2 separate regions of the Homo sapiens genome follow, and region 2 is linked to region 1. A link means that fine-mapping ties the variant in region 1 to the expression of a gene that starts in the linked region. Tissue or cell type: whole blood. Region 1 holds a variant in brackets; the other region holds the start of a gene. All regions are shown on one strand. Distances are from middle to middle. Region 1 holds the start of ANO7 (anoctamin 7). Region 2 holds the start of PPP1R7 (protein phosphatase 1 regulatory subunit 7).

Region 1 (15,507 bases):
TTTAAAATCTACTAAAACAGTGAGATACAGTGTTATCTGTCAGGTTGGTGAAGACTCATAGAATGCAGCTGCAACCAGCCTGTGATGGCAGCAGGCACTCTCGTGACTACGGAGATAGCTGTGTTTCATACAAGTTTTCTGTAGGGCATTTAGAGCCTTAAAAATACCACATGCAGCTGGGCACGGTGGCTCACACCTGTCATCCCAGCACTTTGGGAGGCTGAGACGGGTGGGTCACCTAAGGTCAGGAGTTTGAGACTAGTCTAACCAATATGGTGAAACCCCATCTCTACTAAAAATACAAAAATGAGCCAGGCGTGGCGGCATGCACCTATAGTCTCAGCTACTGGAGAGGCTGAGACAGGAGAATTGCTTGAACCCAGGAGGCGGAGGTTGCAGTGAGCCAAGATCGTGCCACTGCACGATCAGGTCAGGAGATCGAGACCATCCTAGCCAACATGGTGAAACCCTGTCTCTACTAAAATACAAAAATTTAGCTGGATGTGGTGGCACGCGCCTGTAGTCACCACTACTCGGGAGGCTGAGGCAGGAGAATCGCTTGAACCTGGGAGGCAGAGGTTGCAGTGAGCCAAGATTGTGCCACTGCACTCTAGCCTGGCGACAAAGCTAGACTCCACCTTAAAAAAAAAAAAATCATAGAGAGCTTCCTAACCAAGATTTAAAAATCAGTGAAAAAAGAAAGAATAGGTATATCTAATTTTATAAAGCGTATGTATTTTGCATGATGAAAGAGTCCATTGGTCGCCTGAGAGGTTAAGGTTAAGGTTATTTTCTATGACATACAAAAAGTTCTTTAAAGTGAAAGAAAGCGATTCAATAGAAAAATAGGTGGAGGATAGCAATACACAGTTCACCAATATGATGCATCCCGCCCCTGCCATACGCGACTTGTTTCAAGCTGACATCCAGGGCCTGGAGGGTGGGCTGAGACCAGCACTGCCCTGCTCAGGCCCCCACCCTCTTCCCAGTAATCCAGGGGAAAGGTAGCATCACAGTGACCAAAGGCAGTAGCCAGGGGAGGAGAAACATTTGGCAGGAAAGTTTCCACCCTCATGGTGTCTGATGCCGGCATGGAGCCCATCTGCCCACTGCCCTGCTGGCACAGGGGCTTCCCCAGGACCCTCCCAGATGCTCTGTTGGCAGATGCTGCCCGCTCGTTTAAGCCAAGTGATGCCATTTAAATTACATTGCAGGCCTGCTCCATGCCACAGCTGTGCTTCCTCAGCCCTCTTGATGGAATGCTTTCCTGTAGGCAGCGCCCTGCACAAGCAGCCTGTGCCAGCTTGGCACCCCTGACCCAGGGCTGTCTGGGTGTGAGCTGCAAGGAGCGGGGGGCACAGGTAGGGGCTGCTCGAGGAGAGGCTGTGTGCCTCCCTCCCAGCATGTGTGCCTGGCCTGGGCCCACTTTCTGCTCCCCTTCAGTCTAGTGATGGCCATTTCATTAGGTTTCAGTTGCATTCCTTTAATTACAGATGAGTCTAACCCTGGCGCCTCTGTTTTCAACCACTTTGTCCTTTTGTTCCCTCTTGATACTTTCTGCTAGCTTTAGTCCAGTGCATTTTCCCTTTTATTATTAACTTATAGAGATTCTATCAATGAATGATACTAAACCTTAGTATGTCATCTGTGTTGCAGATACTTTACTTTGTCACTGGTCTTCAGCTTTTTTTTTTTTTTTTGAGACAGAGTCTGGCTCTGTCACCCAGGCTGGAGTGCAGTGGCGTGATCTCGGCTCACTGCAAGCTCCACCTCCTGGGTTCACACCATTCTCCTGCCTCAACCTCCCGAGTAGCTAGGACTACAGGTGCCCGCCACCACGCTCCGCTAATTTTTTTTTTTTTTTTTTAGACGGAGTCTGGCTCTGTCCCCCAGGCTGGAGTGCAGTGGCGCAATCTCCGCTCACTGTAACCTCCGCCTCCCGGGTTCAAGGGATTCTCTTGCCTCAGCCTCCCGAGTAGCTCACCATCCCCACGGACAGCTCTCGATGTGGCCGTGCCTGTGTCTGGCAGCCTCACCATCCCCACGGACGGCTCTTGATGGGCCGTGCCTGTGTCACGCATCTCCTTTGTTAAACTGTCATGGAGATTTTCAGAAAATAAGTGATTTTTACATTCTACCAGTTGTTTATGAAATGTATCTTAAGAATTCTACCCATCTTTTGCTTAAAACATTACTGAGTTTGGGGTAATTAATGTGAATTTTCTATAATATCAGCCAAAAAAATTGTGAAGGGAAATACAGGTATCCTATGTATGTATATGCAAAATACACAGATAGAAAACCCCATAAATACAAAATGCAAGTTTGGGTTCCAAAAACCAAAAGAGTCTGCCAGGAAAACGTCAGCCAAGAAGATGTTCTCTAGCAGAATCCCAGCCGTTGGTTCGGGCAAGGGATCAGCTGCTGAGATTACTGGGAAGGATGTTGAAGAAGGGATGTTTGCACACAGGCCCAAGGATCATGCCACAGAGAACTCGCTAATTGCAAAGGGAAAGCATGTTCCCAGAGTCATCTGGGGTCACCAGCTGATCTGCATGATAAAACTTAGCATCCCTAATTGTGGGACCACCTGAAGTGCTGTGTCCCCAGTGTGAGTCATCTGTGCAGTATACCTACCAAAAATGTTTAGTCTGATCTAACCAAGCATTCATACCTAACTTTGAGTTTATGGGAAGTGTAAGAGCTAGAAGAACAAGCTAAATGACAGTGAGGGATACTTTACAAGACAGTTCTTCAAGAAGCCAATTTTAGTTTTTAAAAAACAGTGTGAGAAGGACATGGGAGGTGCTCAAGATTAGAAGAGACTGAAGTGGTCCCTCTGGGGGAAAGGAATGTGCCCGCGCTCCCCAGCCAGGCTCCCTGACAGCCCCAGTGTGCAGAACTTGATAAGAGAAACATAAGGTCATCTTTTTTCCATGATGAGTGTAACATCTTTGCCCCATCCTGGGATTCAGGAGCCTCTGGAATGTCTATGGAGACAGAGTCTCATACAAGTGAATGTTTTTAGTTCCATTTTGGAAAAATGCAAAGATAAGAATCTCTGAAAGTTACCAGTATCAAACACATTATTTACACATTATTTACAATGCACCATTGGTGGTGAGTAGAATTCCCCGTGTTAGGTTTACTAAGTCCTGGAGAAAACTGCTCTGAGATTGGCAGTGCTATGGAAAATTACAACATCTGCAATTTATAAAGATGGTCCGCCCATCTAGACTAATAATGACATTGGAAAATGCTGTGATGTGTGAGACAAGAAGCATCTGGTGTGTGACAAACACAAATACATCACATATCGAGAAAGAAGGAGGTGACACAGCTTGAAGACCTCCCACGCCAGAGCTGAAAGCCTGAGTCAACTGCCAGTGGTGTTTTGAATCATTTTTTAAATAGACTATGCTACAAGAAAATCTTACTTCTTCCAAACAGTGTGATATTGCTACTTTCATTAAATGAATGTCCTTTTTGTGTGTTTTGTGGTAGAAGTGGTTAAGGCAGTGGTGTTCAGTCTTTGGGCTTCCCTGGGCCACACTGGAAAAAAGAAGAATTGTCTTGGGCTACACATAAAATACTCTAACGATCGCTGGTGAGCTAAAAAAAAAAAAAAAAAAAAAAGTGAAAAAATCGCAAAAAAATCTCAAAATGTTTTTAAGCTTACAGATTTGCGTTGGGCCTCATTCAAAGCCATCCTAGGCCATTTACAGCCTGCAGGCCGTGGGTTGGACAAGCTTGGTTTAAGGCGTGTGTGTGCATCATTTTCGTGACTCTCCACTTTAAGGGGCTCTTTCTGTTAACTGACCAGTGACCGGCCAATCACAGGCCTGGCAGGTGGATGGCTTCCCCTGTAATTCTAGTGTTGCAGGCTCTGCACTGGCCACACAACCAGCGGGGCGGTGCGAGTGTAGTAACAGAGTAGCATTTAAGAAGGTACGCTCACGTCCCGTCCACATGGAGGCACTGGTCGGGACAGCAGCAGCAGGGCACCAGCCCTGGTGGTGCAGCTCCTCCCAGCAGGTGTCAGTCCCTCTTCAAGGGCTAAGCTCTAGGATTTGGAATTCTTGGTTTCCCAAGGCTGGTACGCACTAGTCCCACAAAAGGTTCTGTGAAAATAGGGTCCCTCAGGCCAGGCGCAGTGGCTCACGCCTGTAATCCCAGCACTTTGGGAGGCTGAGGCGGGTGGATCACTTGAGGTCAGGAGTTCAAGACCAGGCTGGCCAACGTGGTGAAACCCCATCTCTACAAAAATACAAAAATTAGCCGAGCATGATGGCGAGTGCCTGTAATCCCAGCTACTTGGGAGGCTGAGGTGGGAGAATCGCTTGAACCCAGGAGGCGGAAGTTGCAGTGAGCAGAGATTGCCCCATTGCACTCCAGCCTGGGCGACAGAGCGAGACTCCCTCTCAAAAAAAAGAAAATAGGGTTCCTCAAACAGGCAAACCTGTGAGATGCACGTTATATTCCTCTCTGGGAAGCCCCTGACACACGGTAAGTTACTAAAGACAGCCTGGCTGTGACAGTGGACCTGGTGCAAAACTAGCCCTCCTGCCACAGACAGATAGAAAAATATGAAACAACTCTATTCAGGCAGTGGACAGCAGGCAGCACGCACCTGCAGGCTCTGAGGAGGGAGTTCCAGCGCGAGCCCCGTGATCACCCCACTCCTTACCTGGGATGTTTCCCAAGCAGAACACAGTACTTCTGAGTGGAAGAGGCAGAGATCAACATCTCTGGCAGCTAGAGTGTGCCAGACAGGGCCCCAGAGAGAAGGGGAGCTGTGCAGAGCAGAGGTCCAGAAGTCCATGCAGGGACCCCCCAGTCGGACCACAGCTGTGGGCAGGGCAGTGGGCAGTGTGGGCCCCAGAGTAGAACGCCCCTGCTTGCCTTCCGTTCCACATGGACAGTTCCCTTCCTAACTTCCCTGTAAAAGGAGTCGAAGTCTGTCACCCTATAACGAGTGCCCCTGCCTGTGCCCATTGTAGGTTCACAGTCAAGTCCAGCTGCCTCTTCAGGAGCAGTGCCCGTGCTCTTGCCACCGCGGTTTGCCTGGCAGGCCCTGAGGCCGGGCAGCTCTGAACATGTGATTTCTACACACAGGGTGTTTGAAAGGGAGGGTCAGACCAACAGGGTTTGAAGCTGGACTGGCTCCCCTTGTTCTGGAGATGGCACCACTGCACTCCAGCCTGGGCGACAGAGCGAGACTCTGTCTCAAAAAAAAAAAAAATGCAAGAGAACTCTTCCTGCCAAAGGCAGGTCCCTCCAACTGGGCATGGCAGGGCCAAGATGGTAAAATGTAGCCTGCAACTCAGACCTCTGAATCCCACCTGCTCACGATTTGTGTCCCTGCACTTGGTATTGGGTGAAAGCAGCAGCTGGGACTTCCTTGTGGAGAGAGCCATAGAGGTAATTTACAGAAGAGTTGAGAGTTTTAAGTAGAGCGGCCTCTGTCTGCTGTGTCACAGTGATGGCGCAGAGTGCAGCCTTGGGAATGATGGCTGAGAACTGGTTTGTAGAAAGTGCAGCCCACCCTGCTTTGACACTTGCCTATGGACAAGTGTAGCAGGCAGGTGGCCAGAACTGCTTTGTCCTTCCTCTGCTGACCTGAATGTGGACTTGGCCCCGTCATAGTGACTGGCCCAGGGTTGGCTATGGACAGGTAACTTGTACTTGGGATGCAGCTGAAGGTGGCCAGGATGCACCAAGAGGCCATGGAAGGTCCCATGAGGTGCCAGGGAAGACCCACACCTGCTCGCCATCTTCTGAGTGGGAAGGAGGAGGGTGGCTAGTGGACCCCACCAGAGTCGAGGGCTGGGCTGTTTGGTTCTAAAGGCTTTTCTGCTGTGTGTGTCCCCAGATGAACGACAATCTCCTTGAGAGCTGGAGCGACCTCGACGAGCTGAAGGGAGCCAGGAGCCTGGAGACAGTGTACCTGGAGCGGAACCCCTTGCAGAAGGACCCCCAGTACCGGCGGAAGGTCATGCTCGCCCTCCCCTCCGTGCGGCAGATCGATGCCACGTTCGTCAGGTTCTGAGTCCTTCTTGGCTCCTCATGTGGTCCCTCTCCTCGGAAGAACTGCCCAGCCACGGGTTTTTAACCCACCTGTTGCTCCTGAGGTCGTCACTATATCAACAGTCACAAACCCAATGGCAATAAAGGCACTGACGATAGCTGGCGCGCGCGACGTCACACACCATTTTCAGATGCCGTTGCAATTAAATCTTGCCACACTGTCCTCCTGGGTGATTGTTGACAGTTATTGTAGCCACAGAGAGAACATAAGACACGTTGCGTTCATTCGCTAGAAATCCCTGTTTCCTTCTCTCAGAAGGCAGTCACAGTCCCTACCTGAGTCGTGTGAAACACAGGGCCTGAGAGTGCTTTACAGGCATTCACGTGCTGTCCGAGTGGCATTCGGGGGCTGGCCTAGCTGGCCCTAGTCCTGGTGTGCAGGGTTCAGGCAGTCTTGACCTGCAACAACCGAGGTTTTTTAGTCTTTTAACCCAGCCATTTTCAATTTTTTAAAAATTAGGTAAGTTAAAAAAGCTGGGTAAAAGCTGACTCAGCCCTGTGTGCTTGTGTTCCTTAGAGCTCTCCTTCAAAGAGCGCCGGGCAGGGCTGACTGTTTTCACGTGTGCCCGTCAGTTCTCGCCACATCCCTTGCCTGTGGGTGAAAGCTCAGGTGTGGGGAGGGTGTCCTGTGTCCCACACGGTGCTGTGCTGCTGCCAGAATACGAGTCCCATTGAGCCTCTCCAAAGACGGCCTCCAAGGATCTGAACTCTTGGCCACTGGTATAGTGGCCTCCTGTTCTCACCCCATTGTTATTTTGGCTTTTTTAATATAAAATGTACATTGACAGACACCCGAAGTCTGGATTTAATGCTACCAGGGCATCGTCACCTCCCAGGGTCTCAGATTTCTCCTCCTGCAGAATGAGGGCCACATCATGTGGTCACCAAGGTCCCTTCTGCCTCCGGGACTCTAGACTCTAGAACCGTCTACTTGAGGAACCAGGACTCTAGAACCGTACTGTCCAATGTGGGCGAGGCTGCAGTGAGCCATGATTGTACCCACTCCAGCCTGGGTGACAGAGGGAGACCCTGTCTCAAGTTTTAAAAGGCTCCAAATTAATACCCAGCCATCTGTTCTTTAACAGACATTTTTACAAACATACAAAAAATGTGGAAGTGATGAGGAAAGGTATGCTAAATCCAGCACAATCCTAATCAAAATGCCATTTGATTTTTTTTTTTTTTAAGGAGTCATTCTCTGTCACCCAGGCTGGAGTGCAATGGCGCAATCTCAGCTCACTGCAGCCACCACCTCCCAGGTTCAAGCGATTCTCCTGCCTCACCCTCCCTAGTAGCTGGGATTACAGGCACCCGCCACCACACCCAGCTGATTTTTGTATTTTTAGTAGAGATGGGGTTTTGCCATGTTGCCGGGCTGGTCCCAAACTCCTGACCTCAGGTGATTCGCCCACCTCAGCCTCCCAAAATGCCGGAATTACAGGGGTGAGCCACCGCACCCAGCCACCATTTGATTTTTTGAGACACATTAAATTCTAAAATTTAATTTTTTTTCCTTTTTTTTCTGAGACAGAGTCTCGCTCTGTCGCTAGGCTGGAGTGCAGTGGCGCGATCTGTGCTCACTGCAAACTCCG[C/A]GTCCCGGGCTCAAGCGATTCTCCCGCCTCAGCCTCCTGAGTAGGTAGGACTACAGGCACATGCCACCACACCCAGCTAATTTTTATATTTTTAGAAGAGACGGGGTTTCACCATGTTGGCCAGGATGGTCTTGATCTCTTGACCTCATGATCCACCTGCCTCTGCCTCCCAAAGTGCTGGGATTACAGGAGTGAGCCACCGTGCCCGGCTTTTTCTTTTTCCTTTTTTGGCGAACAGGGTCTTGCTATATTGCCCAGGCAAGTCTCAAACTCCTAGGCTCAAGCTGTCCTCCCACCTCTGCCTTCCTAAAAGCTGGGATTATAGGCATGAGCTACCGTGCCCGACAAATTCTAAAATGTATATGGAAGAAAAAAGTCAACATTGTGATTCAATTCATTTTGAAAAAGAGCTGGGAGAGACGCTTTCCTACCAGATCCTGAGTGCTGCAAACCCACAGTGAGAGTGTGGGGGGAGGCCTGACCTAACAGCACCAAGACAGGGACACCTCAGCAGGAACCCAGGGGACTCGGGGACTGGGAAAAGTGTCCGGGGGTCGGGGAGGGGTGGACAGTGTCCTCATGATGTTGGCAGAGTGCACTATGTGGAAAAATGAACACTGCCCCTCCCTGGCATCACACACAGGATAGGCTCCAGAGCAATTGGTGATTCATGGGCGGTGGTGAAATAGGAAATCAGTAGAAAATAATGTGGGAGACTGGGCATGGTGGCTCGTGCCTGTAATCGTAGCACTTTCGGAGGTCAAGGCGAGTGGATTGCTTGACCTCAGGAGTTCAAAACCAGCCTGGGTAACACGGTGAAAACCCATCTCTACTTTAAAAAAACACAAAACTTAGCCGGGCGTGGTGGCAGCCACCTGTAGTCCCAGCTACTCGGGAGGCTAAGGTGGCAGAATCGCTTGAACCCGGGAGGCAGAGGTTGCAGTGAACTGAGATCTCGCCACTAGCACTCCAGCCTGGGCGACAGAGTGAGACCCTGTCTCACACCCCCAAAAAAGAAAAAAGAATGTGGGAAGGCGGATATGTGAGCTAGCAGTAGAGAAAACTCCCCAAGGCCGGGTGCGGTGGCTCATGCCTGTAATCCCAGCACTTTGGGAGGCCGAGGTGGGCAGATCACAAGGTCAGGAGTTCGAGACCAGCCTGGCCAACATAGTGAAACCCCGTCTCTACTAAAAATACAAAAAATTAGCCGGGCATGGTGGCAGGCACCTGTAATCCCAGCTACTCGAGGAGGCTGAAGCAAGAGAATTGCTTGAACCCAGGAGGTGGAGGTTGCAGTGAGCTGAGATTGCGCCATTGCACCCCAGCCTGGCCAACAGAGCAAGACTCTATCTCGAAAAAAAAACTCCACAAACACAACTGTAAGACAAGATTTTGATGGGTTTATTTACATAAAATTTTACATAGAACAAAAATAATGAATAATACCTGAATAATGGCAACAGTAGATTAAGAGAAGGCGTTTGCAGCTTTTAAAACTGGCAAGGCTTACCATTTAGAACTCCCACACATCAAATAAAGGAGACAGGAATCCTGACGGAAACGCAGGCCAAGGGCCAGAGTGGGCAACTCAGACACCAGGGGCCAGTGGCCTGTGTGGAGCCGCCGCTCACAGGAAGCTGGGCTGCTGGCTGCACCTGCAGACAGGAAGGTTAGAAAGCGGGCAGTGCAGGCATCCAAGAGTCTGTCCCCTGCGACCCAGCCACCGTCCGTCCAGCAGGGCTCCCATGTGGCTGGGGCGCAGTGCCAGGGTCCTCATGGAGGGAGCCCTGCACGCGCCTCCAGCCTCAGAAGGAGCCTCAGAAAGAGGCTGAACTTCAGTGTGGGCTCTTCACCACCACTTCCACCTCCACTAACTACACCCTAAGTATGTCCATAAATGTTACAGCCAGCCGGGCACGGTGGCTCACGCCTGGAATCCCAGCACTTTGGGAGGCCGAGGCGGGCGGATCACGAGGTCAGGAGATCAAGACCATCCTGGCTAACAAGGTGAAACCCCGTCTCTACTAAAAATATAAAAAATTAGCCGGGCGTGGTGGCGGGCGCCTGTAGTCCCAGCTACTCCGGAGGCTGAGCCAGGAGAATGGCATGAACCCGGGAGGCAGAGCTTGCAGTGAGCCGAGATGGCGCCATTGCACTCCAGCCTGGGCGACAGAGCGAGACTCCGTCTCAAAAAAAAAAATGTTACAGCCAAAGAAAGATGGTGCAGCAGATTCTGGGCCTGGGCTCTTCCCAAGGCCTGGAACCTGGCGGGCCCCCTGTGCTGGTTGCGGCTTTTCTCCCTCCCTCCCTTCCTTCCTTTCCCTCAGAAGTAACACAACTTGAAAAAACCACCCACCCAAACAGAGTTGTATGAAGTAAAAATGGAAAGACACTCCTCAGGGCCGAACCCCCTTTAGGTGTTGTGCGTGCACTGTCGCTGAAAGGGCTCCCACTGGGGTGTGGTCACCTCCAGCAGCCGGCCCTGAAGCTCTTGAGTAGACAGCCCTGAGGCCACCAGAGCCACTTTGTCACCAAGAGCAGAGAGCCAGGAGCTCCTGGGAGGTGGCATGTCTTCCTGGGAGGGTCCTTGGCCAATGACTGAGCAGAGTAAGAGCCTACAGTTGCATCCAGGTGAGGAAACGCTTCGTCTTGCCTCCCCTGCAGAGTGCCCATGGCAGGCTGAGGCCACCCTCCACAGGTCTTGGGGAGATGGTGCCCCGCTCATCCTCCCTCCCCTCCTGCCTCCCGACTCCTTTCCTGGTTTCTGGAGCACTTCCCCAGTCCAGCCCTCGTCCAGGGATCCACCTCAGGCGCCTGCAGGCTGAGCTTGGCCAAGCAGAGACCTCTCATGCAGATGCCCTGAGGCCCAGGGCCCCAAGGTCCTGCCGCCCAGGCTCTGCTGGTGCTGACAGGGAACCCGGCCTGCAGGGCCTTCCCGCTGTTCCGAGGCACAACACAGGTCCAAGAACAGGGCCCCTTGGGAGGTGCCAAGCACAGAGGGGCATAGGTATAAGGGAAAGCTGCAGCCAGGATGAGGGTCCGCCTGGAGGGATTTCAACAGGCAGAAGGGGGCACCTGGAACAGCAAGCTGAGCTTGGGGCTCCCCAGTGCAGTTGTGCATGGAGGGCGAGGAGCACGGGTGGTAGGTTCTCAGACACTGCCAGGCACCAAGGAGGAAAGGGGGAGGGGGAGGGAGAGGGGAAGAGGAGGGGCGGGGAGAAAGGATAGGAGGAGAAGGAGGAGGAGAGGGAGAAGTGGGGGGAGGGGGAGAAACAGGAGGAGGGGAGTGGGGAGAAAGGAGGAGAAGGAAGAGGAGAGGGAGAAGTGGGGGGGAGGGGGAGAAACGATAGGAGGAGGGGGAGTGGGGAGAAAGAGGAGGAGGAGGAGGAGTTGGGGGGAGAAATGATAGGAGGAGAGGGAGAGGGGAGAACGGATAGGAGGAGAAGGAGAGGGAGGAGTAGGGGGGAGAAACAATAGGAGGAGAAGGAGGAGAGGGAAGGTGGGGAGAAAGGATAGGAGGAGGGGGAGAAAGGAGGAGGGGGAGGAGGGCTAGGAGGAGAAAGAGGAGGGCTAGGAGGAGAATGAGGACGAGGAGGAGGGCGGAAAGGATGGGAGGAAGGCTAGGACCCCTCCTGTCCTTTTGCAGATGGGGCCCTGAGCATGGGATGTGCCTGAGGTCACCCCTCAGGCATTAGCAGAGCCAGCAGTGTGATCTGGGTCTCCCAATCTCCCCAGCCCCCGGGTGAAACCCTGGCCCACCACTCAGCACATGCTACGTAACCTCAAGGAGCCTCAGTTTCCCCCCACATAAACAGAGCTTACGAGGTCTGCCTGGCAAGGCTTCCAGCAGAGGTGGCACTTGTGGCTGTTCCTGTGGAATCCCACCTCCTCGAGACCCTCCAAGGCAGCAACTATGACAGCTGATGCCAGCCCTGAAATCTCTAAGCAAATAAGGTTCCCAGGAGGACGGCAGCATTTGCATGCGGGTGTGTGAAAGCCCAGCCAAGTGGGCTGCCTCTGTCTGCAGCTCTGAGCCCCACACCCCCTATTTAAACAAAGATAGATCCTGCTCCAGGAGCCGGGAAGCCTTGCCCTGGCCAGCTGTGCTGGGCACCTCCCCTGCCTGCTTCCTGGCCCACTTGCAGGCAAGGTGAGGGCATGCGAATGGCTGCCACTGCCTGGGCGGGGCTCCAAGGGCCACCCCTCCCCACCCTCTGTCCCGCAGTGAGGACGGGACTCTACTGCCGAGACCAGGCTCACGCTGAGAGGTGGGCCATGACCTCCGAGACCTCTTCCGGAAGCCACTGTGCCAGGTGGGGACCCAGCCTAGACGTGTGGGCCACAGGGAGAAGGTGGAGCGTTGGACTCTAGGGAGGCAGGGCGGCACCCCAGCCCACCGGGACTTTCACACACCCTGGCCTGTGGGGAGGCAGTGCCAGGGCCCGCCCTGGTCCCCAAAGCCCCTTGGGGCACGAGGAGGGACACACACTCAGTGCGGCTCTGGACGGGGTACACCCAGCTGGGGTTGGCTTCCTGCCTGCCCAGGGGCTCCCCCATGGAGCAGGTCCCTTCGTTGGGGTGGGGGGCATCCCCATTCTTTCTGCAGAGAGCTCTGAGGAGGGGCCCGCCTGCCCACCACAGAAGGATGGGGGCATGAGGGGCTGCTGGGTGGCCGAAACTCCTCGGGGACTTTCCTCCAGGAACACCCCACAGTCCGTAGTGAGGCTCCCAGCCTGGGGCCGGGGCCGAGTCCTAACACTGAGACCTGGCTCGGGCTTCAGGGTTAGGCAGGTGCAGGCGGCCCAGGCTCAGTCTCTGTCCCTCTGGGCCTCCGCTAATGTGAAGTGAAGGGTAGAACTAGAAGGCTGCCCCTCCGACCTCCTGCGGCGCCTCCATGGTCACACCCTCCGGTCATCGTCGCAGCTCCAAATGCCAGCCCCAGCTCGAACCCTCTCCTTCCAGGGCCACAGATGTCGTGCTCCTGGCCCCGTTTTGCCAGCCCAAGACTAGGAGCCACGGCACCTGTCCTCCCACAGAGAGAGACCCCCGGGGCGAAGGTGCGGGAGGAAGCTGGGACCCCCAAGAGTTGTGAGGCCGGGCTCCATCAGGCCCGCCTTGCTGGGGAGCTCAGGGCCTATGGGTCCTGGCACTGGGTCCTCAGGCCATGAGCGAAGGCAGGCGACTTGAGGGGTTTCCTGTCCCTGGCTCACATGGCTCCACCCTACGGATAAGAGAGGGAGAGGTGTCTGTACTCCAGGCCCACCTTTCTGGGCCTTCTCAGGCTCCACTGAGTACCCAGGCAGAGTGGACGGCATTCAGGGCTGGGGGACACGGGCACTCACTGGATGGACAGACAGACGCCTGCTGTGCCAGGCCTGCCAGACGCTCCCGCCCCGGCACTGGTTTCTTCCTGGAGCTCGTGGCTGGCTAGGGGGTTCTCCATGTGCTCATGGCCAGGAGAGTCTGCCGAGCCAGCCCAGCCCCATTCTACTCCGAGTCGAGTCTGTAAAGTGAGCTCACTGCAGGCAGTGTGGTGGCCCCAGGAACGGGTCTCACCCATCCCCTCTCTGACCCCCATCCCCACCCGGCCTTGCTGGGTGCAGGAGCAGGATGCTGCGGCGACGGGCCCAGGAAGAGGACAGCACCGTCCTGATCGATGTGAGCCCCCCTGAGGCAGAGAAGAGGGGCTCTTACGGGAGCACAGCCCACGCCTCGGAGGTAACAGCACCCAGGAGACTGTGGTGCGACTTGAGAGGTCCTCCCCTGCCTGGGTCTATGCCCCCACCCTGGGCCCAGAGCCTCTGGGGGTGGATGGGCATCACCGTGTTTCTCCTGCATCCCCCGGCAACCCCCAAGCCCTCGCCACCCAGTCCTCAACACACACAGTCAGATCACCGCTCTCCTGGCCTGGCCTGGCTGTGGAGAACCGAGCAGAACCCACTGATGTTCAGACAGGAGCTCCAGGAGGGTAAGGGGGGCCTGGCCAGGCAAAGGCAAGACCAGGGCGGGGCCCTCCCTGTGGTGTCAGTCCCAGTCAGTGCAGGGCCACAGCAGCACCCAGGGCCATCTGTAGGGCTCCACCTTGTCACTAGGAGGCCATGGATGCGCTGTGAGCCTGTGGGGAGAGGCTGGGTCCCGGGCCTTCAAGGCCATGCGGGAGGCCCTGGCCGTGGAGGGCCCTCTTCCTGGTTCTCCTGGGCCACACGTCTGCCCCAGCAGCCTGCGGGTGGACACGGGACCCCTTCCTGCCGCCCCAAGCACAGCTGAGATGAGCCTCCAGGGAGGGCACAGGGCCTCTCACCTCAAGCATCCAGACACTCTCGGTCGCCATGGCCAACTCTGTCCTCAGGGCCCCTTTGGGAGCAGTCCGGCTCCCCTCTGCCCCTGGAGGCCAGCAAGGCAGGCACCCCTGGTCCTGGCCATGCTTCCCGCCAACCTGACCCTTGCCATGGGCCTGGCCCAAGGAGGAGGGGAGCCGGCTGGAGGCCCAGGGCTGGTGGTGCCCTCTGGCCCTGCCTGCCGCTCCCCGCGCCTGCGCATCCTGTGCCCCCACACAGCAGAGGGGCTTCCCCCTCCACCCCCTACCCACCCGCCGAACATTCTTCTGTGGTCCTGAGTGTTCTGGGGCAGGGCGGGGACGGGTTGGAGGCGAGGACGGCTTCAGGGTGGGGCGGGGTGGGTGTAGTTGTCGAGGGCAGATGCTGATGCTGATATGCTTCTCCATCCTCCATGCCTTCCAGCCAGGTGGACAGCAAGCGGCCGCCTGCAGAGCTGGGAGTCCTGCCAAGCCCCGGATCGGTGAGCCCCTCCCAGCACCTGTACCACACCCGTGTTGGTCCTGAGGGTGGGGACACCACGGGGGTGCCCCCAGGGGCAGCAGGCTGGGGTAGCCTCCTCAGTAGCCACTCTGGGGCCAGTTGCTTGGGGATGGGGCACTGGGGTGAGGGCCTCGGGGTGAGCAAACCACAGTGGGAAGAACAGCAGGAAAGGGGGCTCCCTACTGATGGGGTGGGGCCGGAAGGGCTCTGGAGAGTGGACAGGGCTGCCCCCTCCCTCCTGCTCCAGTCCCCTCCACCATCCTCCAGCTGTTCAGCCACAACTCAGGTCATTTCTGACTCTTATCTCTTGCACTCCACCCCTTTTGTACCTTCAAAATCTCTTTGATCCACCCCCAACCCACTGCCTCTGTCTGCCCGGAGCTACCACCGACTCCAGGGGATTGCACCAGCACCAGCCGGGCTCCCAGCACCCACCCCGCCCACCCTGCTGTCCCCTCAGCACCAGAGAGACCCTAACCTCCTCCCACTAGGATGGCTACTACTTAAAAAAAATCACAAGTGTTGATGAGGATGAGCGGAAACTGGCTCACTTGTGCATTGCTGGAGGGAGTGTAAAATGGTACAGCTGCTAAGGAAAACAGCAGTTCCTCAGAGAATTCAGCACAGAGTTCCCGTAAAAGCCAGTATGTCTTCCCTGGGTGAGCGCCCACGAGCACGGGATGGGGGCCCCGGGGAGATATCTGTACACCCGCAATGTCATTCACTGTAGCTGGAAGGCGTGCATTCGTCTGCTGGGACTGTCATAAGAAGTACCACAGCCTGGGCCAGGCACAGTGGCTCATGCCTGTAATCCCAGCACTTTGGGAGGCCAAGGCGGGTGGATCACCTGAGGTCGGGAGTTCGAGACCAGCCTGATCAACATGGAGAAACTAAAAATACAAAATTAGCCAGGCGTGGTGGCACATGCCTGTAATTCCAGCTACTCGGGAGGCTGAGGCAGGAGAATCGCTTGAACCCAAAAGGCGGAGGTAGCGGTGAACCGAGGTCGC
Region 2 (15,507 bases), 33 kb before region 1:
TCATGTGACCACCCTGCAGAGTGGAGATACTTAAGAGTTCCATCCTGCATATTGGCAAGCACTTGAAACACAAGTACACATTTACCAATACCCTGTCCTCATGGCCAAACTCAACAAAAAGAGCCCTTAAAGCAAGAAGATTTCCTCTACTGGCAGGAAGCCCCCACCTGGTCATCCAGGCTTTAGATAAACAGCAAGAGGAGGCTGTGGCCAATACCAGAACCATGGCTGGAGTTTCCCCCACGAAATGAGGAGACCCTGGGGCCAAGGCAAGCCCAACCACACCCCATATACCCTCTTCTGGACCACCTTCTGGGTATCCAGAACCCCAGAGTTCCCAGCCAAAGGGTCTGGTGCCCACTTCTAAGACACACACAGGCCTCTTTCCACCCAGGTCCTCCCACACTGGCACACCTATAGCCGTGAACTGGCTGAGGAGCAGCCTTCCAGGAATAGCGAGCTTGGACAAGCTAGCAGGATGCCCACACGAGGCCCTTCCAAGACAAGGCAGGCCTGGGGTGAAGAGGAAAGGGGAGGTGGCCCTCCCAACACCACCTCTTCCAATATGGAACTCCAAGGAGTCCCCCCTCCTTGCCTTATCCTAGCATCTGGTGGCTACTGGCCATACTGGCCATCTTTGGTGTTCTTGACCTGCAGCTGCGTCACTCCAGTCTCCGCCTTCGCCATCACAGAGCTTCTCCCTGTTTGTTTGTTTCTTTTTTTTGAGACAGAGTCTCGCTGTGTCGCCCAGGGTGGAGTGCAGTGGCGCGACTTCGGCTCACTGCAACCTCCGCCTCCCGGGTTCACGCCATTCTCCTGCCTCAGCCTCCCGAGTAGCTGGGACTACAGGCAGCCGCCACCACGCCTGGCTAATTTTTGGTATTTTTAGTAGAGTCAGGGTTTCACCGTGTTAGCCAAGATGGTCTCGATCTCCTGACCTCGTGATCCACCTGCTGCGGCCTCCCAAACTGCTGGGATTACAGGCGTGAGCCACCGCGCCCGGCCGACTTCTCCCTGTTTGTATGTATCTTCACATGGCCATCTTTTTTTTTAACTAGGAGATGAGGTCTCACTATGGTGCCCAGGGCATAAAAGATCTGATCTGTGGAAGTCAAAACACTAAACTTTTTAGCCAGGCAGGTCTCGTGGCCTGCACCTATAGTCCGAGCCACTCTAGAAGCTAAGGCAGGATAATTGCTTGAGCCCAGGGAGATGGAGGCCAGCCTAGGCAACAAAGCGAGACCTGTCAAACCAAATAAAATATAAAATAAAATCACTAAGTTTTTAGGAGAAAAGAGGCTATCTGTAAGACTTTGGGGTAGGGAAAGTTTTCTTAAACAAGGCACAAAAAACTCTAGCTATAAAATAAGATTAATAAGTTTAACGTTAAAATTGAGAACACATCACACCTGTAATCCCAGCACTTTGGGAGGCCGAGGCAAGCAGATCACGAGGTCAAGAGATCAAGACCATCCTGACCAATGTGGTGAAACCCCATCTCTACTAAAAAAAAAAAAATTAGCTGAGCATGGTGGCACACACCTGTATTCCCAGCTACTCTGGAGGCAGAGGCAGGAGAATCGCTTGAACCTGGGAGGTGGAGGTTGTAATGAGCCGAGATGACACCACTGCCCTCCAGCCTGGCGACACAACCTGGCAGGTGGAGGTTGCAATGAGCTGAGATCACGCCACTGCACTCCAGCCTGGCGACACAGCGAGACTCCGTCCCCCCCAAAAAAAAGAAAAAAAAAAATGAGAACACAGCTTCACAAAGAATACCATAAAGAAAACGAAAGAACAAGCCACAATTTGGGAGAAGATATTTGCCACATACATAACCAACAGAAAATTAATATCCAGAATAGCTTTAAAAGATCAACTATTTAAAATTTAAACATTTTTAAAAGACACATGGCCCAATAAAAAATGTCAAGAAATAGGAACAAGCGTTTTACAGGAGAGGAAATCCTAATCATGATGATGTTATACCTACTAAGTCAGCAGAAATGAAGAATCTAGTAATACCCAATGTCAAAAAGGATTTGGATCAACAGGAACTCTTAATACATTAATATAATCTCTTTAGAAAACAATTCAAGTGAAACATTTGTCTATATGGATACAGCACTTTTCACTTAGATTTATATTTCAGAGAAATTTTTGCAAACAGATAAGAAGACACCAGAATGTTCGGGACAATATGGTTCTCAATGGCAAAGAGACAGGCAGAAAAAAGGGAGGGAAGAAAGGGAGGGAGTGCGGGAGAGAGGGAGGAAAAAAGGAAATGAAACCCAAACACTCTTTAACAAGAAGATAGATTTTAAATTCTGGTATATTCATACCACTAATTACAGCAGTGAAAACAAATAAACTACACACAAGGGTGAATCTTAGCCATATACGAGTGGAAAAAATCAAGTTACGGAAGACAATCAGCAGGAGGATTCCTTTGTCATGAAATAATCTAAATAAGTAGTTCAGGGAAACACACCTATGTAATTAAACTACTTCTTAAATAAGAGACTGGTAAACCTAAATTTCAGGCAGGTGGTTCCCTCTGGGTCAGGCAGGTGCAAGAGTGGGGAAGAGGCACAAGGGCACAGGTCCCCTGATTTCCTAGGGTGATGGGTTCAAATGCATCCACTCTGCTGGTACAATTCATGACTAACACTGCCTTTATTCTTTTGTATGAATAAACTGATACGGCCAAAAAATTCAGAGACATTCACACACAAACCCAGCCTAGGACCCTGGAAGGCAAAGGCTCTGCAAACCTGCAGATGTGTAGGAAGCTATTACATATAGGGTTTGGGGTTCGAGTGTGCAGCTTTCCTACAAGCAGCAACAATGAATGGGACCTTTAGTTACAGGTTTACATCTCCTTCTCTAAGCATCCAAATGCACTAATTATTGCCATAATAAATAACAATGACATGATTATAGTGTGAGGCAGTTTTTTCTACTTTTAGAACCAACCTATAGACAAAGCTCAGGACACTTAATTATAGCTTCAGAATACATTGTAAATGTTGTAAAACCTTACTTTCTTAAAAAAGTAATATAACTCTTCAGAATACATTGTTAGAAAACTTTAATTCCTAAAAAATATAACTCTTCAGACTGCAATGTCAATGTTACAAAACTATTTTAAAAAGTCATATACCCAGTACTTTGGGAGGCCAGGCAGATTACTTGAGCCCAGGAGTTCGAGATCAGCCTGGGCAACATAGGGAGACCCCATCTCTACAAAAAAAAAATTAAAAATTAGCAAGGTGTGGTGGCACATGCTGGTAGTCCCAGCTGCTTGGGAGGTTGAGGTGGGAGAATCGCTTCAGCCCAGGAGGCGGAGGCTGCAGTGAGAGGACACAGCACCACTGCACTCCAGCCTGGGCCACAGAGCAAGACCCTGTCTCAAAAAATAAAATAATAAAAAAGTAATATAACTATTCAGAATATATTGTAAATGTTACAGAAGTTTCTTTGTAAAAGTAACTAACATGAAATGGAAAGGGGGAAAAAAAGCAAAGGGAGGGTAAGGGCATGCAATTTTTTGTCCTTCATGGGAGAAAGTAAATAAATACCAACTAAAGTTGTGGAAGTTTAATTAGGTTACTGAGAGTTACAAGCCTATCCAGGAGGGAAACTGATGGGACCCTCTGCGGGAGCGGGGAGGACAGCAGGAAAGATGCATCCTTTTTCCCGCTGTGCCTCCTGGGCATCTGAAGTCCACGTGGGCCAGTTTGTCACTGAACAGCATAGGCCCCTGGAGCCTCCCGTGCACTCCACAGCCACAGCCTGGCCTCAAGAAAGAACAGAGTCTGGCTTCACATGACCTTAGATCACTAAATTTTGACTCAGACGTTAACCAGAAATACCTGCACGTCCAGGCCCAAATTTTTAAAATTGTCCTTTGTATCCACTGTGAGCTGCAGACACGGGAACCCAAACCCAGCAGACAGCACCTAATGGTGCCACCGAGTAACCATATTCCCATTGCTAGTTTTGATTCCAGAAGACACAAGTGACCCCACCTCAGACCAAACAGAAGCAAGGACAACTTTGCAGGGAGCATCTCGGCGAACTTCTAGAAGCAACTGTCCCCCTCCCACCAGAACATAAGCTAAGAAGCAAACAGCTCCCATTGCTGTCAGCACAGCTGTACAACAAAAAGGAGAACCAGTTTCAGGATGAGGCCAACAAGGTGAACAGTGCAGTAGAACACAGCAAGGATGTCAGTCCTGGAGGAGGCACCTGCAGAGCCGGGCCCTACCAAGCAGAGTGAAGAAGTCTTTCAGAGGCAAAGCCTCCCAGAGAGGAGTTCAGTACCCAGAAGAGTAGGTGGACGTGGGCCTGGAAGGGCCAAGCATGAGCCCAGAGCCTCCTATGCCTGCCCAAAGTCTTAATTTTATCCCCAAAATGAACTTTTAAGGATTCAATGCTTAGGAGTAACATGGCCAGATATGCATTTTACAAAGATTACTCCAGGGACCATGTCGGTGCAAGGCTGGAAAGCAGGAGAAAGGCTACAGTAATCCAGGCAAGAAATTATAAAGTCTTAAATTAAGGTAGCAGCAGAAAGATGAAGAGAGGGAACCCCTAAGAGAAAAATGGACATCGAATGGTACTGAGATGCGGAAGGTAAGGACGAGAAAGGCCTCAAGACGGCAGCGCAGGCCCCTGCCGTACTCTGGGAAAGAAAAATTAGTGAAAAAATTAAGGCTCAAGTCCAGGTCTTTGCTGTAACCACGAGCGCCGGCGGCGCGCGCCCCCGACCCCGCGGCGCCGGCTGAGCCCGCAGGGACCCACACGCCCAGTGCAGGAGGCTGGCGGGATCCGGGCTGGTTCTCCTGGAGCTCGCCCCGCAGGGCCGGCTGCGGTGAAGAGAGCGCAGGGTCCCGAGGCGACCCGAGGCGCGGGGCCTCGGCGCCCACCGGGCAGGCTACACTGAAGGGCACCCCGAAGACGCTGGGGGCGCGGGGCCCAGGGCCAACGGCCGCAACCCCGCCGCGATTTGGGCACGGAGAGGACGCGGGCTCGGCGGTGCGCGAAGGGCGACGGGCGCAGGGGCGGGAGACCCGGGGTCGGGCTGGTCTAAGAGTCGGGCGGCGGATCCTCCTGGGCCAGGGGCGCGGAGCCGCGCAGGCCCCACAGCCGCCCTGGGGAGATGGCGGAGCCCGGCCCGCTCTCCCGAGCGCAGGTATCTCACCTGGATCAGGCGAGGGTCACGCCAAGCCGGCTACACACCACGGAAAGGAGCCCTTCCGCGCTTTTATCCCACCGACCAATCGCACAGCGACTAGCACCGATTGACAAGCTCCACGGACCAGCCACTTGCGCGTATGGGCGGGACTAAGCTAGCCAGAGTCTAGAAGCCCGCGCTAAGGGTTGCTAGGGACGCACCAAACACCCCTACGGCGCTTCGGAGGAGCCAAAGGAATAATGGGCGCCTCCGCCCCCGGGCCGGGCAGATGCGGTTTCCTCCCGACTCGCGATCAAAATGGGTGAGTAGCGCAGAGCTCGCCTCTTGGAGGCCTCTTTCTGAAGGCGGAGGACGCGGGGCGGCTCGTTCATGGGCCGGGTGGCTCCGCAGGGTAGACGAAGGCTGCAGCGTCCGCACTGGGCTGGGAACGACTTGCAAGGGGAGCCCAGCTGGCGCCCCGGAGCCAGCCAGCTGGCTAGCGGCCCCACCAGCGCAAGTGCCCCGCACCTGCCCGCCTGCTCCGAGCGTCAAGAGAAGGCGGCATTTCGCATGGGTAAAATCCGCGCGGGGACGCCGGGAGAATGTTGTTGCTCTTGCCGTTCGGCCCATTGTACAGACGCAGCCAGCGAGGCTCGCAGAGGTCAGGGATGCACGTAGGACTGGCCCGCACCTTGCAGCCACGGAAAGATCCGCCTGGCCCGCGGCCCCTCCACGCCTCCGAGGTCGAGACAGTGACATAAGTCAACTCTCAAGCCCAGGGCGTCTCTCCACTCTGCCTAGACGTCCACTCCGTCTGCCTGCAGCTACGGCTCTGTGCGTCCCGCTTCGACTCCCTCTGCTTTCCTTCCCAGCTTCTCGCCTCCAGACTGTTCCGGCTCCGCCGCCTGAAATTACCTGCTCTGGGGGAGGCGCGGCGCGCGGCCTCATGACGGAACTACAACTCCCATGAGGCGCTGGGCCCACGCAGGCGCGGCGCGGCTGAAGTCGCCGCGCCGGAATCCCATTGGCAGGGCCGGCTCTGAGGCGGGAGCCCTGATTGGCTGAGGGGTCTGAGGCGACAGATTCCGGAAAGGGGAAGAGCAGCCAACATGGCGGCGGAACGCGGCGCGGGGCAGCAACAGTCGCAGGAGATGATGGAGGGTGAGCGGCCCCTGCGGGCGGCGGCCCAAGGGCCCAGCGGGCGGGGGGAGCTGCGGGCTGGAACTGCTCCGTGCCTGAGAGAAACTCCACGTCCTGCCTCTGGCCGCCGCCGCGCGGCCCCCTGACAGCTGACAGCCGGACCCGGGGGAGCGGGGGAGGCGCTGGACCTCGGGGGAGCCCCGGCCCGGGGGCGGCAGCGGCCGGGAAGGACCCAGAGCTAGGGGGAGAGCGGCGGCGCGAGGCCAGGCCGGGGGTGGGGCTGAATGGGACGCGGTGGCTCCATTCAGTCCAGTTGGAGCCTCGCCCCGAGCCTCTGAGATTGACGGGCGGGGGAGCCTCCTCGGTCAGCTGACGAGGAAACTGAGGCGCTGGGATCTACCAGAGTCTGCTCCTTGGTTCACGTGGTGAGGGTGGAGAAGGGTCTTCTCTTGAAATCGAATGGACTGTTGGGAAGGGGTAACAAGGAACCGGAAGATTGAGTTACACAAGGTGATACCTGTTTTCAAAGCTGTCATAGTTCCAAAAAGTCTGAATTCAACTTTCTTCCTCCTCATTCACTTTGTTGGAAAAAAAAACCACATGCATATATGTATATGTTATACGTACACATGTGTTTATAATTTTCTGCATATCTGTAGGTACAGTCATATACGTGCACGTACAGTATGTGTGTAAAAATGCGTGCACACACCCACTTAGCAACTGGGGAATCAGTTGTGTCATCAGCTTAAGTACTTTTGGGTCCCATGGTTTGGTGAGGGGTACAGACCTCCCAGAAGAGCAGTCACTGCCTTATGTGAAAGGGGTAGGGAAGAGGAATGTGGAGCTGGGGAAGGAGGGCGGGTGCAGCAGGAAGGCCTGACATGTTAGGGAGTGGTGACAGCTGCAGAAGCAGGGCGAGCTCTGAGCTGGAGCCTGAAGAATAACTCGAAGGCAACGAGGTTGGGGATAGGGTGAGGGAAAAGAGCAAGAATCACTCAAGACGGAGAAAACTGCTGTCAAAAGGTGTGGAGGAGAGTTTGACCAAATCGTATGTGGTGGGGATGGGGGCGGTAGTGTTAAGGGTCTTGGACTTCATACCCTTTGAGTCTTTTTAAGAAGCGCCTCTTCATATCCTCCCACTCCCTCTTCAGCTGTTTCCATGTCTTGGTAAATGACAGATATAAAAGCCCGGCTTTTCTCACTGTCCCACTCCCACCCATGTCCTGTTAGTCAAGGAGCTCTGACTTTTACTTTTGAAAGTATCTCCAAATCTCCGATACGTCCTCCATTCCCATTGCCAGTACCTTAACTCAGACCTTCATCATCTCTAGGCTAGATTGATTGTCCCTGTTCACCAGCCCATCATCCCCAGTACACCAAAGTCATTTTCTTACATGCAGAGCCACTGTCCCATGTTCCAGACCCTCTCTGCTGCCCTCAGGCTTCACTTTGGCCAACCTTCGTTAGCTAAGCCTTTGCTAACCTCACACCACTCCTCCTCTTACTGGGGTTTTTGTGCCAGATTGTCATGCAGTAGAACTTTCTCTCCCTGAGCCTGGACCACCAAGTGACCTGTGCCTGGTGGTGACTAATTTGTTATATATCTACTGCATGTCATGCACGTGCTAACTGCTCTTGTGCCTTTTCTAATTTAACCGTGACAGCAACTTGCTGAGGCATAGGTGCTATACTAGCTCCCTTCCACAGACTAGGAGATTGAGGCTTTCAAATGGAAACGATTTGCCAAAGCTGCATCTCTAGCAGCAAGATGCAAACTCAGGAAGAGCATTCCAGAAATACTTTTGGACTCAAAAGATCAGATTTGGATTTTAGAATTAGATCAGACTCTCTGGCAGGGGAGAATAGGTTAAGCAGGGCAAGACAAGTCACAGAGACGAGTTAGGAGGCAGGGCAGGAGCCCAGGCTGCAGCTAATAAGTAAGTGAGCCACCGTCATTGCGGGGGTAGGGAAGAAGAGATGGATTTGGAGGTTTTGGAGGTGGGTTTTATAAGGACTTGTTTTCTACAGCAATCCTTTCTTGGGTTTTACTTTGCTAGGCTAAGCGGGAAGTACAAAGATGAAGTTGAACTTTTTCCCTCAAAGAGCACATCTCTTTGTAGATAAACCATAGTCAGGAAAGAGTATTTTCAGTATGGTTGATAATTCCAAGTAATGTGTTAGTGCCTCATGTTTTCCAGACAGACTTCCAAAAGAGGTCATGAGTAAAGTTATAAAAAAGAAAAATGATTTGACAACCTTACCAAAGAATTTTTACCTGACACATTGAATTGCCTTATTCTTTAATTCAAAAAATATTTATGAACCTTTAAAAGCCTTAAGTTGCTAACACTCTGTCCAGTGTCCAGTGTGAAAGCTCATTTCACACCAATGAGCTTTCTGTGGGCGGTCAGCACTATTGGCTGTATTCTCCTTTTCCTTAGTGATCCTCCCTGCCCACAGTCTGATTTGAGTTAGTCTTGATTTCTTTCAGAACGTGGGCCTGTGAACTTGGCTGGTTTTCTTAGCCAGATAAATAGTGGAGCATGGATGGAGGTATGTGGCAGAAGGGTCACAGTGGTGATCCCCCAGCCCAAAAGTGAAAGGCACTCAGGAGGTGCTTCACTACCGGGTTCCATTAGTGGATTTAATCACAGGTGATCCAAGGCTTTCAGAACACTGGGCAATTCTTCACAAGCTCCTTGAGGGCAGAAGTAGTGTGTTCCTCACCTAAGTATCCATGTGGGCTCCACACTCTGCTCCCCATTCTCCCCGCGGCCATATGCCTCAAATGGTGCTGGGACATGGGAGACACTCAGATGTTCGTTGAACTGGATTCAACAAACATGTTTAAATGAAATCCTTTTGACTTACAACCGGGTGTTTATTATATGTTCCTCAAAGTCCCATAAAGTGGATGTGAATTCTCATTGACATGTGTGGGTTCAGTTGACAGGCGGGTCGAGTCTGAAGAATCCGGCGATGAAGAAGGGAAGAAACACAGCAGTGGCATCGTGGCCGACCTCAGTGAACAGAGCCTGAAGGATGGGGAGGAGCGGGGGGAGGAGGACCCAGAAGGTACCAGGCCCAGCTCCCTTGGGGACATCTGCTGGTTGGGGGATGTGGGCTGTGCTGCACGTGGTCTGGCCCTGGGTGTGGGTGCTGTGTCGGTCTGGAGAAGGACTGCCGTGCTCCTTAGGGGTCCTCAGTGGCCCAGGGCAGGTGGATATGCTCTTTGAGGTGCTCCTTCAGCAGGCTGACTCATTGATGGCGTTTGCAAAAAGGATGTGGTTTTTTCCAATTCCACTGAAGGCAAATCCTAGCACAAATATGGGTACTAGTATGCCGTCTGAGACAGAACCATGACATTGTTGGCCAGATGCAGTGGCTCATGCCTGTAATCCCAGCACTTTGGAAGGCCAAGGCGGGTGGATCACGAGGTCAGGAGATCAAGCCCATCCTGGCCAACATGGTGAAACCCTGTCTCTACAAAAAATACAAAAATTAGCTGGGCGTGGCAGCGTGTGCCTGTAATCCCAGTTACTCAGGAGGCTGAGGCAGGAGAACCGCTTGAACCCAGGAGGTGGAGGTTGCAGTGAGCCGAGAACACACCACTGCACTCCAGCCTAGGTGACAGAGGGATACTCCTTCTCAAAAAAAAAAAAAAAAAAAAAAAAAGGAAAAAGAAAAGAACCGCAATATTGTTATATTAACCATATGTTTAGGAAATGAGATTCGAAATAAATGTTATGGCTGACTGCTGTGTTTCTATGTCCTACCATAGCAATAGAAACCTTTAATCTCTGAGAGAAATTATTTCTGAGTCTTGCCTTACCATTTTTATAGGCCTGAGGATTGACTTCTAAAGTGCCTAGATGTGGCCGGGCGTAATGGCTTACGCCTGTAATCCTAGCACTTTGGAAGGCCAAGGCGGGTGGATCACTTGAGGTCAGGAGTTCGAGACCAGCCTGGCCAACATGGTGAAACCCTGTCTCTACTAAAAATACAAAAAAAAGAAAAAAAGAAAAATTAGCCAGGCATGGTGGTGTGCACCTGTAGTCCCAGCTACTCAGGAGGCTGAGGCAGGAGAATCGCTTGAACCAGGGAGGCAGAGGTTGCAGTAAGCTGAGATCACACCACTGCACTCCAGCCGGGGTCAGAATGAGACTCCATCTCAAAACAAAAAAGTTTCTGAACAGTATGCATGCATGTATGTACTTTTACCTGCTAAAGAAAGAAAACACATCAAACGGGCTGAGTCTGTCCAAACAGCAGGTTTAAGAAGGATCTATACATTTTGTGTTTTCTAGATTTGTATACAGTGTATGAATAATCATGCATCCCTTATGAAAATAAATTTATGAAGAAACAAACCTAATTTTTAAAATAACATTGTGCTCTCTGTGCCAGCAAAGATGATTGGTAACTATGGCAACCTACTTTTAAGTCACAAGGAGATTACCACAAAAGTACCAGTCACATTCACTTTGGAACTTTGAGGCTGATGTTCTGGAAGTGATGTGGGTGGAATAAAGTGCATGGGAGTGATAGATGGAAGCTTCCGTCATCGCCTGACTTAGTCACCAACAGTGGAGCGGTAGGAGCCCCCGCTATCCTCAGATGGGTGCTGCTGAGACATTGGGTGTTTATGGAGGACTTGAGAGTTGGCAGAGCAAGCCTTGTGTGCTTTCTTTCCCTGGCTCACTAGCACAGGCTAATCATGTTGTCATCATGTTCTGTAAGTACACCAGTGTGGTAATGTGTTATAGATGAGGAAAATGAGACTCTCTGCAGCTTGTCCAAGGGCACACGGCTACAAGGCAGACCAGCTGGCCTGGCCTGGAAAAATCCAAGTTTTTTCTTCGAGATGATTAGCTGATTATGAATTTTCTGGGAATATGCATTTCTAGCCCTTAGAGGAGCCAAGACTTGCTCCTACCTGTATTTATTTAAGTCTTAAATTCAATTAAAACAAATTTAATCATGTCAACTGTTACCTTCTACCTATTTTCCTTAAATTATTTTTAAAATATGATGAATATATAATACACTCAGAAGGGCATTCTAGGCTGGAAACCTTGTTTCAGAGGTTAGCTGACATTTTGAGTGGTGAGCGGCCAGCCCTGCTGGCTGTATTACAAACAAGACCCCTTAAAGCCATGCGACCGTGTGTCCTGAGGAGCCTGGCACAGCCCGTTTCTGCCTGCTGGCCCAGCATAACTGTGCCCTTCTGCTCTCAAAGGGTCCTGGTTTGGACTACATGACCTGGGCGCCCTGCCTTAATTGTAGCACCTCTTCCAGTGCAACTTCCTGAGTTTATGAACGGTGACTTGACACTGTCTTTTGAGGTGATTTGTTATCTATCTCTTGGTTTTGCCCAGTTCCTTTTATTTAATTCTTAGGTTGGTATCCTTTACAGTTGTGGATAAACTATAGTAAACTTTTTTTTTTAACTAACCACAGTTGATGGTTATAGAAAAGGCATAGTGGAAAACAATGAAGTGAATGCAACCATGTGGGATCATGACTTTGTTAAGCTGGTCTGATGTCAGGTGCTCCTCTCAGAGGCCTCCAGGTGAGAGGAGGAGCCAGGCTGGAGGAGCCAGCCCTTGGCATGGGGTCCAGGGCTGTGTGAGCTCACTCCCCTGCAGAAGCAAGTGCACGTTTGCTCTAGGAAGAGCCACAGTAACAGCACTGACAGCCCTGTAAGGTAGTGACAATGACAATCTGTTTACAGGAGAAAGAACATCCTATGCATATAATTCACAGACTCCAGACTGGGAGAAGCACTACAAGACAAACAGCTTGTTTTCCTACAACAGAAAACTGCAAGGGGAAAAAAGAAATTTAAGAAAAATGCTGGGCTGGGTGCAGTGGCTCGTGCCTATAATCCTGGCACTTTGGGAGGCCAAGGTGGGAGGATCACTTGAGGCTAGGAGTTCCAGACCAGCCTGGGCAACATAGCGAGACCCTGATTGTACAAAACATGGTTTTAAAAAATTAGCCAGGCATGGTAGCACACACCCGTAGTCTCAGCTTCCTGGGAGCCTAAGACAAGGATTGCTTGAGCCCACAAGTTCAAGGCTGCAGTGAGCTATGATCACACCACTATACTCCAGCCTGAACAGCAGAGTGAGACCCTGTCTCTTAAAAAAAAATTAATTTAAAAAAGTTTTTTAAAAGAGAAATACCATCTAGTCACAATATACAGCCTTATTTGGATCATAATGCAAGTAAACTAAGGAAAGAAATGTTAAGACAGTTGAGGAAATACGAACACTGACAATCTTTGGTGATATTGAGGAATTACTGTTAATTTTTTTAAGTGTTTTGAGGGGTGAGTGTGCGTGTTTGTGTGTCTGCATGAGTCTGTGTATACCACTGTTGTGCATGCGTGTGTCTGTGTAGTGTGCATACGTGCCTGTGTGTCTTTGTGCATGCGTGTGTGTGTGCATCTGTGTGTGTCTTAGTCCTTTTCAGCACACATGCTGAAGTAGGTTCCAATGAAATGAAATGAGGAAGTGCTTAACAGGGAAGCTGTCGCCTCAGCAGGGAGAGCAGCTCTCTCCCTCCTCCGCACAGAGGATGCCGGCTCCGGGGTAGAGAGTCCTCGTGAAATCCAATGGGCTTCTCTGCTGGAGTGAGTTCACCAGTCTCCCCACTGAGAAGTGTGTTTAAATTATTCAGTGAGCTTCTTTGATCCTATCTGTTGAACTATGTTTTGTTTTGTTTTGCTCTTTGCAGAGGGAAGTGTTTGTAGATGCTGGGCCACCTTCCAAAGCAATAAAAGGCCCATCCTAGAGCATCTGATGTGCCCAGCATGGTCTAGATTCTAATGGCCTGGTTTATTGCCACAAACAAAAAGAGAAAAGCTACATGGGAGGCAGGCTGCTGCCAGTTCTGCAGCTCTGGGAGTCACGGAAAGGCAGTAGTGCTACCCTGCTCACCTGCACTCAGCTACTTCCTCCCCTCCTTCCCACTAACAGGTTCAAAACACATTTCCTTTCTCAGGAAGTTCAAAGGCACAGATGGATGTTTGGTGACCTTTGCCAATATCTGAATTCAGGAAATTCAGAATGCTTAAAACATCACTATTGTTGGAGCAGGGTCTAACCCTGCCACATTCTCCAGGTCCTCAGCAAACCTTCCCATTGGTTCCTCCTCGGGGTTTGAGCTGGCTCTGGGCACCAAACAGCCCCAGACCTCAGCCAGAAGCAGCTCTTCACCAGTGCCTCCTGTTAATGGGGTTCTGAACAAATCTCTTTTTCTTATTTTTTCAGAAGAACATGAGCTGCCTGTGGACATGGAAACCATCAACCTGGACAGAGATGCAGAGGTAATGCCGCCTGCTCAGCCCAGCCTTGGGCGTGGTGATGGACCACCCTGTCAGGTTATCTTGTATGAGATTAGTAAGTTATTTCCCTAGAGAGGTGGCCTAAGCCTCCCTTGGTTGAGTCAGAGTCCCGTGTTCATGTTTTTCTTACCAGTGATTGTTATCCCCATGTCTATTCGACCCTTGAGGATTGTGTGGCAGATGAGATGCCTTTGACTCATACATTGTCTGGGTCTGATGATTACATTATACATGAGGGTCCCAATGGCCCCAGGCTGTGTATGACTGGCCACTGGGCCTCCTGAGCCCACAGCGTGTCTCTGATGGTGATGGGATGGGGTGCATATCCTCAGAACCTGAGCTTATGTTTTGTGCATACAGGATCTAAGGAATGAGAAAAAGATGTCATGTACCAATCATTTTAAGGGCCAGTTTTACATAAAACTTAGTCATCACTAAGCCAAAGAGCCCCCGCAGCACACCTTGTCACTGACATCTGTCTGCTGCAGACCCACCTGGCACTGCCTCCCCCACTGCTGCCCACTTCCAGGCCGCCTCTTCTAGGACGACACAGGTCTCCAGCCACTTTGCTATAGCTGAGTATAGATTTCTGCTTTGTTTCAGGATGTTGATTTGAATCACTATCGCATAGGGAAGATTGAAGGATTTGAGGTACTGAAGAAAGTGAAGGTGAGAGGGACTCTTATGAGGGGACTATGACGCTCACCCATAGGATGTGGATAAGTCCAGAATCGAGCAGTCAGTCCTGAGTTGTGGTCCTTGTCCCAGCCTGTGGGCGGCGTGGCTGCCTCCACCTTGTAGCAGGCCTTTCTTTACTGGGAGCACAGCAGGTGTGAGACAGCAGTCGAGGGACTTGAGGCACAGCCCTGGGGCTGGCTCTCCTGAGCCCAGGCAGCCAGTGACCTGTGACTCTGGCCTGCCTCGGTTTCTGTGCCTGTGTTCAATTAGGCACTCGCTGACTTTTACAGTCCTCCGTGCCTCTCATTGGAATTTGTCAAAATTGAGCCCACCAAAGGTTCTTATGTTCTGCCAGGAAGTGGCAGACACCCACACCCCAGGCCAACGCCTCCCTCCCCAACTGGCCTGCTTGGTGGGGAGCCTGCCTCCTGCCTCCCTTTGGGTTCCCGCCCTTCCTCAGGTGTGTTAAGGAATTATAGCTTAGTGCCCTTGCCCACCTGCCTCTCAAAGGTCAGCACCTTTCTAGGAAACAGCAGGAGAATGAAGACATGTCCTTCTACCAGAAAGGCCTTTCTTGTGTCCTCCAGTATCAGCTGAGGCCTTCTCGTGGCCTCCCCCTTGCCTGTGTCAATTGTCCCTTTTCCCATCCCCCAGACTCTCTGCCTCCGCCAAAATTTAATTAAATGCATTGAGAATCTGGAGGAGCTACAGAGTCTTCGAGAGCTGGATCTTTACGACAACCAGATCAAGAAGATTGAGAATCTGGAGGCGCTAACAGAGCTGGAGTGAGTCATGAGACCCACAGGAGAACAGCATGGTGGGAAGGCCACTGGGTGGGGGGTGTCCAGTCTCCAGAGCCAACCTCCTGCTGGCTCTTAGCCCTTGAGAGGCTGCCTCTGCCACAGGGTCCTGCCCTGCATCTGAATCCCAAGTCTCTGCCTCCTGTTTTCAGGGCTCCAGGAGGCCTCATCGGCTTCATGCATGTCTTTGGCTTCCTGAACAATCCTGACTTCCAAAGTAAATCTTTGATGGGAAGGCTGCAGTGGGGACTTCTGGAAAGCCTCCATTCAGGGATGATACTGAGATCGGTAGAGAGGAAAGTTAATCCAGAATTGCCTCTTGCCTTTTGAATACTCTTTTTTTTAATTACAAAAAA

The links. PIP is the estimated chance that this variant, and not a neighbour inherited with it, causes the effect.
Region 2: PPP1R7 starts here. The variant in region 1 is fine-mapped to the expression of PPP1R7 in whole blood (TOPMed, PIP above 0.99).

The regions. Positions count from the first base shown.
Region 1 is chr2:241,176,775-241,192,281 of GRCh38, forward strand. PPP1R7 (protein phosphatase 1 regulatory subunit 7) reads left to right here. Exons shown (of 10, transcript NM_002712.3): 10 at 5,873-6,878. The coding sequence ends at 6,049. It overlaps ANO7 (anoctamin 7), which reads left to right and starts at 11,903. Exons shown (of 25, transcript NM_001370694.2): 1 at 11,903-11,992; 2 at 13,283-13,397; 3 at 14,420-14,477. The coding sequence starts at 13,290. LOC105373971 (a long non-coding RNA gene) reads right to left here and starts at 11,648. Exons shown (of 3, transcript XR_924064.3): 1 at 11,502-11,648; 2 at 9,190-9,334. RefSeq lists enhancers at 9,455-9,977, 11,173-11,857, 11,858-12,541, 13,475-13,975, 13,976-14,476. The variant C/A (reference allele first, on the strand shown) is at 7,680.
Region 2 is chr2:241,144,208-241,159,714 of GRCh38, forward strand. It overlaps PPP1R7 (protein phosphatase 1 regulatory subunit 7), which reads left to right and starts at 6,260. Exons shown (of 10, transcript NM_002712.3): 1 at 6,260-6,340; 2 at 9,269-9,397; 3 at 13,600-13,655; 4 at 14,277-14,342; 5 at 15,006-15,136. The coding sequence starts at 6,289. It overlaps PASK (PAS domain containing serine/threonine kinase), which reads right to left and starts at 5,265. Exons shown (of 18, transcript NM_015148.4): 1 at 5,207-5,265. RefSeq lists enhancers at 4,219-4,378, 5,892-6,051, 14,104-14,604 and silencers at 4,632-4,681, 4,732-4,791, 4,852-5,211, 6,342-6,681.